Linked DNA regions of Homo sapiens. The protein of the gene in region 2 purifies or fractionates together with the protein of the main gene of each other region. This does not show direct contact. Each region holds a gene or a part of one and is shown on either strand. Other genes may lie near its edges.

What was found. Proteins that work in one complex are often made in the same cells at the same time.
Region 1: the proteins of MFN1 (region 2) and TLR4 purify together in Homo sapiens (affinity purification with western blotting; one study listed by BioGRID). This does not show direct contact.

What each region holds. Positions count from the first base shown.
Region 1 is NC_000009.12:117,710,903-117,715,259, reverse strand, and holds part of TLR4 (toll-like receptor 4 isoform A precursor), read right to left. Parts: intron 2,872-4,357; coding exon 612-2,871; 3' UTR 1-611.
Region 2 is NC_000003.12:179,370,959-179,376,174, reverse strand, and holds part of MFN1 (mitofusin-1), read right to left. Parts: intron 956-5,216; coding exon 834-955; intron 1-833. UniProt on the Homo sapiens protein: Mitochondrial outer membrane GTPase that mediates mitochondrial clustering and fusion. Membrane clustering requires GTPase activity. It may involve a major rearrangement of the coiled coil domains.

The DNA of each region.
Region 1 (4,357 bases), on a different chromosome or scaffold from region 2:
GGTGATTAGTTAAAAAATAGAACATGCTCGAGAATGACCAGGATGGTTGTGAGCATGTGTTAATCAGGTTTCCTTAGGAATTAGCCACTAGACTTTAACCTCTGTAAGGAGACAGACTTAAAATGGAAGGGGCATCTTGCATCAGGAGCCCCTTGACGACTGCAGTCATCAAGTAGAATTTAAATTGTATTCAATCAAAAAGGAAAAAGTGAACACCCAGTTCAGTCAAAACTACCAAAATGGTTTTATGATGGCTATAACATAATACAATTTCCATTCAAAAGACTCAGGAAAAGAACAATGTCTCTTTCTGTTTTCTCTGTCTTTATTCAACTTGATGAGGTAAGAGTTGAAATGACTTTCTTTGTCATGGGTTCCTTGACTGAGTTGGTTGAAATGCCCACCTGGAAGACTCTGTATTTTAGTCTAGCATTTATTCCCTCTGCACTGGAAGCTCCTTGAGATTAGCAGCCCTGCATATCTAGTGCACCATGGAATTACTCACCCTTAGCATAAGGCCTGACATGTGGCAGCATTTAATACTTATTAACTGAACAAGTGTTGGACCCAGCTGGGCAAGAAATGCCTCAGGAGGTTTTTATTTTTCCTCTTCAGATAGATGTTGCTTCCTGCCAATTGCATCCTGTACCCACTGTTCCTTCTGGATTCCATGATTTACCATCCAGCAGGGCTTTTCTGAGTCGTCTCCAGAAGATGTGCCGCCCCAGGACACTGTCCTCCCACTCCAGGTAAGTGTTCCTGCTGAGAAGGCGGTACAGCTCCACCTGCTGCCTGAGCAGGGTCTTCTCCACCTTCTGCAGGACAATGAAGATGATACCAGCACGACTGCTCAGAAACTGCCAGGTCTGAGCAATCTCATATTCAAAGATACACCAGCGGCTCTGGATGAAGTGCTGGGACACCACAACAATCACCTTTCGGCTTTTATGGAAACCTTCATGGATGATGTTGGCAGCAATGGCCACACCGGGAATAAAGTCTCTGTAGTGAAGGCAGAGCTGAAATGGAGGCACCCCTTCTTCTAAATTCTTTACTAGCTCATTCCTTACCCAGTCCTCATCCTGGCTTGAGTAGATAACAAAGGCATCATAGATGTTTTCACCTCTACCATACTTTATGCAGCCAGCAAGAAGCATCAGGTGAAAATAGAACTTATAGACCAGAACTGCTACAACAGATACTACAAGCACACTGAGGACCGACACACCAATGATGGTCTTATTCATCTGACAGGTGATATTCAAACTCAGCACAGGCATGCCCTGCTTATCTGAAGGTGTTGCACATTCCATTCGTTCAACTTCCACCAAGAGCTGCCTCTGGTCCTTGATCCATTGCAGGAAACTCTGGTGTTCACAAGTACAAGCAAAGTCATTCTGAGTAAGATTTAAGAAAGCTAGACTACTTGGAAAATGCTGTAGTTCCTGTTTTTTGGAAGTCATTATGTGATTGAGACTGTAATCAAGAACCTGGAGGGAGTTCAGACACTTATAAGGAAACGTATCCAATGAAAAGAAGTTGTTGTGGCTCATATTTAGTACCTGAAGACTGGAGAGTGAGTTAAATGCTGTTGGAGACAACTGCTCCAGTTGACACTGAGAGAGGTCCAGGAAGGTCAAGTTTCTCAGCTCTGTGAAGATATCTGGAAGGAAGTTTTCCTGGAAAGAATTGCCAGCCATTTTCAAGACTTCGAGACTGGACAAGCCATTGAAGATGCCATTGAAAGCAACTCTGGTGTGAGTATGAGAAATGTCAAGGTAAATGAGGTTTCTGAGTGATAGGAATACTGAAAACTCACTCATTTGTTTCAAATTGGAATGCTGGAAATCCAGATGTTCTAGTTGTTCTAAGCCCAAGAAGTTTGAACTCATGGTAATAACACCATTGAAGCTCAGATCTAAATACTTTAGGCTGGTTGTCCCAAAATCACTTTGAGAACAGCAACCTTTGAAACTCAAGCCATTTCTACTGAGATCTAGAAACTCAAGGCTTGGTAGATCAACTTCTGAAAAAGCATTCCCACCTTTGTTGGAAGTGAAAGTAAGCCTTTTGAGAGATTTGAGTTTCAATGTGGGAAACTGTCCAAATTTACAGTTAACTAATTCTAAATGTTGCCATCCGAAATTATAAGAAAAGTCTTTTACCCTTTCAATAGTCACACTCACCAGGGAAAATGAAGAAACATTTGTCAAACAATTAAATAAGTCAATAATATCATCGAGGTAGTAGTCTAAGTATGCTAATCGGAATTCTTCAATGGTCAAATTGCACAGGCCCTCTAGAGCAGATTTGTCAAACTTTTCCAAGTTTCCTTCATTTCTAAATTCTCCCAGAACCAAACGATGGACTTCTAAACCAGCCAGACCTTGAATACAAGTTTTCATTACATTTAAACTATCAAAATTATTTCTTAAAGTCAGCTTATGAAGCCTAATTTCTTTAAATGCACCTGGTTGGATAAAGTTCATAGGGTTCAGGGACAGGTCTAAAGAGAGATTGAGTAGGGGCATTTGATGTAGAACCCGCAAGTCTGTGCAATAAATACTTTGAATCTTGTTGCTGGAAAGGTCCAAGTGCTCTAGATTGGTCAGATTAGAAAAATACTCAGGTAATTTGAAAGATTGGATAAGATTGTGAGCCACATTAAGTTCTTTCAAAGTTTTGAGATGTCCAATGGGGAAGTTCTCTAGAGATGCTAGATTTGTCTCCACAGCCACCAGCTTCTGTAAACTTGATAGTCCAGAAAAGGCTCCCAGGGCTAAACTCTGGATGGGGTTTCCTGTCAATATTAAGGTAGAGAGGTGGCTTAGGCTCTGATATGCCCCATCTTCAATTGTCTGGATTTCACACCTACAGGAATAAAAAGACATTGATTATCTAATATTTCTGCTGAATAAGAACCTAAAATAGAATATTAATCCTAGTCATCCAGCTCTTCATACAGATGTGATGGGTCATATGATTGTGCATAGGCAAAGACATCAAGCAGGACAGATGATGATGGAATAAGCAAATAAGAAGCCCCACAGACTGAGTATTATCATACTGGCTGCAATGATAGGCTCTTTTTTGTCATGTTAGGCATACATGATAAGCAGAGGAGAAAATCCATAAGAAGGAAATCAGTTAAAGATCAATAATTGACATATATAAAGATTGTGCAGTTGATAAAGCATGTAATAGCCTTGGATCAAGTTTAGCCATTTTCTGTCACACAAAATTGTGATTATACATCTGATTGGTACAGATAATATGGATAGTTGTTAGTTGGTAGCCAAGATAAATGACTGGTAAATATCAATTTCAGAGATACGAAAAATTACACATAAGTGTCACAGATACTCTTAATGTTTATGAAAAGTGCTTACATGACAGCTAGATATTTGAAAGTTCTTGTTATCAGAGGTAAATGCTTGTAACAGGTGATAGGAGCGAGTTTTGTGGAAAAAAGTGAAAATTATGTGCTATAAGAGTTCACATCCAGAGAACCGTTGTGGACCAAGAAAATCAAAGTAGGTTTCTCTGAGAACACTTAAGTTGAAAATTGAAAGATGAGTAGAAGTTAACAATAAAAGGAGGTGAAGTGAACAGCAAACACAAAAGCCCCAAGGTTGACAGAAAAAAAATGACACAAGGAGGAATCATGACAAATAGCTTCCATGGTTGGAGAACAGAGATGAAATTGGAGTGTACAATATGGAGTTGTGGAGAAAGAAGGTTCCCAATTAGGCAGAGGTTTACCAACCAGATAAAGGGTTTTGAATTTTATCCTAAAAGAAATGAAAGCCATGCTACACACAATGTTCAGAGACATGTCCTAGAGACAGGGCTTTGATGCAGCCAGCAAACAGCAAGCCAATGAAAAATTCCTTTCAGCATTGCAGGTGCTTGTCAGTTACAATGTACAAATAAGTTCTTTCTTAATCCAGCCTGAATTACATTTACAATATTCCCCACCCATTTTATTTAGCTTCTTCAGGAGTTTCCTAGACAATAAAAGCATTGTGGTCCAAGCTTTTGTTATTTATTGGTAACTAGATAAAGGATAGGCAGTATAGTAGAAAGAACGCTGGAAGAGTGGACAAAAGAGCTTGGGTTTGGTGTTTCTGCAGTCCTCTCCTACTGTGTGATCTTGAGTACCTCTTTTCCTCTCTAGGTTTTAGTTATCACATTTATAAATCAAACAGCTGAACTTGATTATTTTTGAAGTTCTTTCTTTCAATTATATGATTGTTATAGCCCATCATTCTATCTCTGCATTGCTCTATACATTAGGTGAGAAGGAAAGGGTCTTGCTGTGTCTCTATATCATTACATTGGTGATAATCACTTTAGA
Region 2 (5,216 bases):
TTCCTAAGAAAGTACCATTATAAAGCAACAGACAGGGACATGAAGGGGTCTTTGTTCCCTGAAAGAGCAAATACATTTAAAATTCCAATGTTATGTCATCTTGGACTTAAGCTTTGATGCGTTTATGTTTCCTTCAACTGGCTTAAGTCCACTGAAGGTCCTATCGAGGCTTAACATCATTACTTTTGTCACATCTAATAACATCCCGATCTGTGTTTCAAGCATACCAAGTTTGTGAAAATTATACTTTGTATCGATAATGCTGGTATTTTCATGTATTCATTGCCACCTTTACAAGGTAACAAATAGTATAAAATAATGCCGTACAGTATAACATAAAGGGTACTGCTTACCAAATCAACTTTCTGGTTGGCAGGTAGCATCGCCTTGTTTGTTCACCAGGCAATAAACAAACACAACTAGTATAAAATAGTGATTTCAAAATACCAATGTATGACCATATTAAAAAATGGGTCGTGGGTTGAATGCAGAAAGAGGATCACCTGTTTTGGACTTCTTCATAAAAATCTGCTTGAAGAAATGGTTCTTCCACTGCTTCAAAGATATTTTAAAGCCACAAAACATTTTAAAAATCACAATTCATACACAGGAATAGTGAGGTCCAGGGGATATAAATGATGTGTGCAAGGTTGCAGAATAAATATCGACACTTTCAAATACGCACTTAAAAATATAGAAGTAGGCATCAGTTAAACCCACAAGGTTGATTTCAGTGTAAAAAGTATTTATAGTACAACAATTTAAAACCTCATCTTAACAAAAGTCTGACAAAAAAACTAACATTTTTATGTTGCAACAAAATGAACTCATACCTTTTATCTTCAGCTGCCAGGTTTACTGAATCCATTATGTTTTTCACAGTAGCTAGTATCTGTTTAGCTCTGATAGTGTGCTGTTCGAACTTTGTTTTCACTGCTGACTGCGAGATACACTCCTGCGAGGGGCCCAAGCCGTAACACATTACTGTAATTCCATCGCAACATTTTCAGGAATTTAAACACAAAAACTTGCTGTTTGTAACTTTAACCCAAACAGAAATAAAGATAGAAAACAAATGAGTGATAAAAGCACAACTTAAAATTACAAAGGTGAAAAAAATACAAAGATTCAAAAGTAAAAAGGGCTTTAGCAGCAAGTTACCATCTTTGTGTATTTTTACACAGTAATGTGCAATGGTTTGACTCTAACATTAAAAAAAATAAACAGGGTACTATTTTCAATGTTAAAAAATTTCCTCATTAGAATTACTATTTTTATCTGGATCACCTTTAATCCAATTCTAGTCCTTCTATCTAGATTATTCTCATACTTGCAAAAGATATAACCTAGTAAAGTTCTTAATTAAGATGTGAATTAGAACAATTCCTTATTTAATAGCTGAATGATACAATGATTCCTGTAAGTTTGCTAAAAAGGACTTCATTGAGTTAAAATGTGAAGAATTTGAAAGCTAACATTTAACAATGTAACATCTAAAATTGTTTATAGAAAAAATATCTGCAGCTGTTTAGAAGATAATTGTAATTACTTTCATTAGAATATAGTGTGTACACAGAAACCTGAATCATGCCCTATCTCATTTATCTTCAAGCTAACAACCCATTTAAAATAGTTGTTATAAATCAGTGTTTTATAACCAGTGTTTATTTAAATAAAAAATACGTCACAATGCATCACATTTATCAATGGATACATTTCACATTTGTTTCAATTTTCAATATATAGAATACTTGTTATCTTATATATATATATTACATATATATGTTATATATGTTATATATATATTACATATATATGTTATATATGTTATATATATATTACATATATATGTTATATATGTTATATATATATTTTTGACAGTCTTGCACTGTCACCAAGGCTGGAGTGCAATGGCATGATCTCGACTCACTGCAACCTCCACCGCCTAGGTTCAAGTGATTCTCCTACTTTAGCCTCCCAAGTAGCTGTAATTACAGGCATGCACCACTATGCCTGGCTAATTTTTACATTTTTAGTAGAGTTAGGGTTTTGCAGTGTTGGCCAGGCCGGTCTTCAACTCCTGACCTCAAGTCATCTGCCTGTCTCAGTCTCACAAAGTGCTAGGATTACAAGAGTGAGCCACCACGCCCATCCTATAAATATATATTTACTATGATTTATCATTTAAAATTTATAAAATTGGGCCGGGCGTGGTGGCTCACTCCTGTAATCCCAGCACTTTGTGAGGCCGAGGCGGGCAGATCACGAGGTCAGGAGATTGAGACCATCCAGGCTAACATGGTGAAACCCCATCTCTACTAAAAATACAAAAAATTAGCTGGGTATGGTGGCACGCGCTTGTAGTCCCAGCTACTCGGGAGGCTGAGGCAGGAGAATGGCGAGAACCCGGAAGGTGGAGCTTGCAGTGAGCTGAGATAGCGCCACTGCACTCCAGCCTGGGCGACAGAGCGAGACTCTGTCTCAAAAAATAAATAAATAAAAATTTATAAAATTTTTATATTACAATTTGTCTTATTTCATTTTTACTTCACAGAAAGTCAAATTCTGCACTGAAATATAGCACAGTAAGTACTATAGATGTTTTATAAGAGACATGTTTATTTTCTATGATAAATTTTTTAAAAATTAGGGATATATTAATTCTCTGATACTCCAATGAATTCATCTTCTCGAACCTCTATATATTTAGCTAATACAAATTGTGGTAATTGCTTCCTGAAGTTCATTACTATCCTTCCTTTAATAAATGGCTTTTAGGCTTCAAAAGGCATTTACTTAATACTCTAGTGCTACATTTCTTATCCTGAAATCATCAGGATGCTACACGTGCATTCAATGTCCTATTTACGACCTATGCTTAGCCTTCATGTCTCTGAAATTATTTGAGCACTCAGAAAGACTATAATCTCTACTGCCATTTTAGCTCCCCTCTTCAGCATTTCGTTTGAGGTAGAGAAAACAAAACAGATTATTTAGCTATAGAGCACATGAGGGTAATTAATTTAGTCAATATTTAACTCTGAAGCCATTACTTTCTTGCATTGCCTAGCTTCATTTTTTCCCATGGTGAAGCTCATTTATGCATCACTTATTTTCACTGATTTTGAAAAAATTAATGTAGGAAGTTATAGCATTCCTGTTCTGTACACACCTAAAGATAAAACATACCCGGATGTTTTCTTCTTTAAAATCACCAATAATTACATAATAGTGAACATTTGTAAACTACTTATTTTTTAATAACTAAAATAATGCATTGACTTTATTTTAAATAAATGCCTCATAAATGTGTCAAATTAACTTCTGCAAAATTATAAAAACAAAAATATTTTTAAAAGGAAAAAGATTAAAATAAAGTCTATATTCCTCGATGAAGCAGATCTAGATATCAGCAATGAAGATCCAAATTTGTAGATAACAGCACAGTGTTAGAGCTAGACGAGACAGAAAAGATCTCCAAAAGTTATTAGGCAATATAAGTTACTGTCTGATTCAAAAATATATAATGATGAGTAAGTATAGAGAAGAAAATAATCAATTAAAAAGTAATCCCACATTGGTGTTCCCACTGATCTGTAGGATATTTAAGAGGTACCTTGAAAAAAGAACATTTTACTCCAAATAAGTATGGGAAGTGTTAATTTAAATAAAGTTCCCCTTCTAAGTTATTTCTCAGCATCCTTACTACACTAATATGCTAATTAATCTCTATGGGGAACATATATAATATGCAGCAGTTCCCAGATTTATTTTATCAGGAACTCTAATCATACATTAATAATATAAATTTATATATGTAATTAAAACATAAAACCAACAAACTTGTCAATTTCCCTTGAAAACAGACCCTACAAACACCTAACATGCTACTCATCACTGCCAACTTATTTTGATATACTTTCAATAGAAAGTGCAAGAAATAGACCTTTCATCTAGATATATCAAATATTAACATTCAGCCCCTTTTGTTTACTTCTCCCCTCCCTCCATACTCGCGCTCGATACTCTCTCTCCTGTGTGAGGGCATATATATATAATATTTATATATAACATTATATATAATATTTATATATGTATTATATAATATATAATATATAATAAATATATATAATATATATAATACATGTCTTGCAATGAATATATAAAATGTATGACCCCCATATATATAAAGAGAGGCATATATTTTTATATATACTTATGTATTATTTTCCTTCCTGAACATTTTGACAGGTCATTACTACATCACAAGCTTGTTACCTAACACATCAATACTTGTCTTCTAAGAAAGAAAACATTTGCACAATCACAAAACAATTGTATTCAGAATATTTACCATTGAGACAATACTATTATCTAACAAACAGTTCATGTTCAAATTTCACCTATCATCCAGGAATGTCCATTACAAAAAAATCCACTGACATTTTAAATAAGTTATTTTTATACGTCTATCTCCCATCATACAACCAAAACTAGTAAGAATTAATGGTGAAATAACTGTGCAAAAGATATTTGGATTTCTAACTTGCCTTTAGAACAATGCAGTCCAAATGCATTTTGAAACTTTCCAAATACAGTTTTAAAACAATAAGAAAATGTATTGACAGACTAACATTGATTTTCCTTTCTTCCTTTTTTTTGAAAGAAAAGAGAGTCTCACTCTGTCACACAGGTTGGAGCACAGTGGTACCTCCATAGCTCACCATCACCACAGCCTCAAACTTCTTGGCCTTCTACCTCAGCCTCTGGGGTAGCTGTGACTATAGTCATGAGCTATCATATCTGGATTTTTTTTTTTCCTGCTAGAGATGTGATTTAGTCTTTTCATGTTTTTGCCCAACCTGATCTCAATCTCCTAAGCTCAAGAGATCTTCCTGCTTTGGCATCCCAAAGTACTGGCATTACTGGCATGAGCCACCAATGCCCAGGCTAATATTGATTTTTTTTATTGCTTTTACTCCATTTAATTTTCAAGCCTTGCTTAAATTAGTATTCTAAATGTTTAAAATACTTAGATCCATTTGAATCAAATGAATCTAAAGAAGTTCACGGCACAGGTCAAATTGATAAAGGTGATGAACTTGATACAGTTTTTCTTTTCACAAAAAATCTTGCACGACTACAAAAAAAAGTAAGCAAATCCCCAAAACAGAGAAAATGTGTGTAAAAGCCACATGATGTGACCACAACACAAA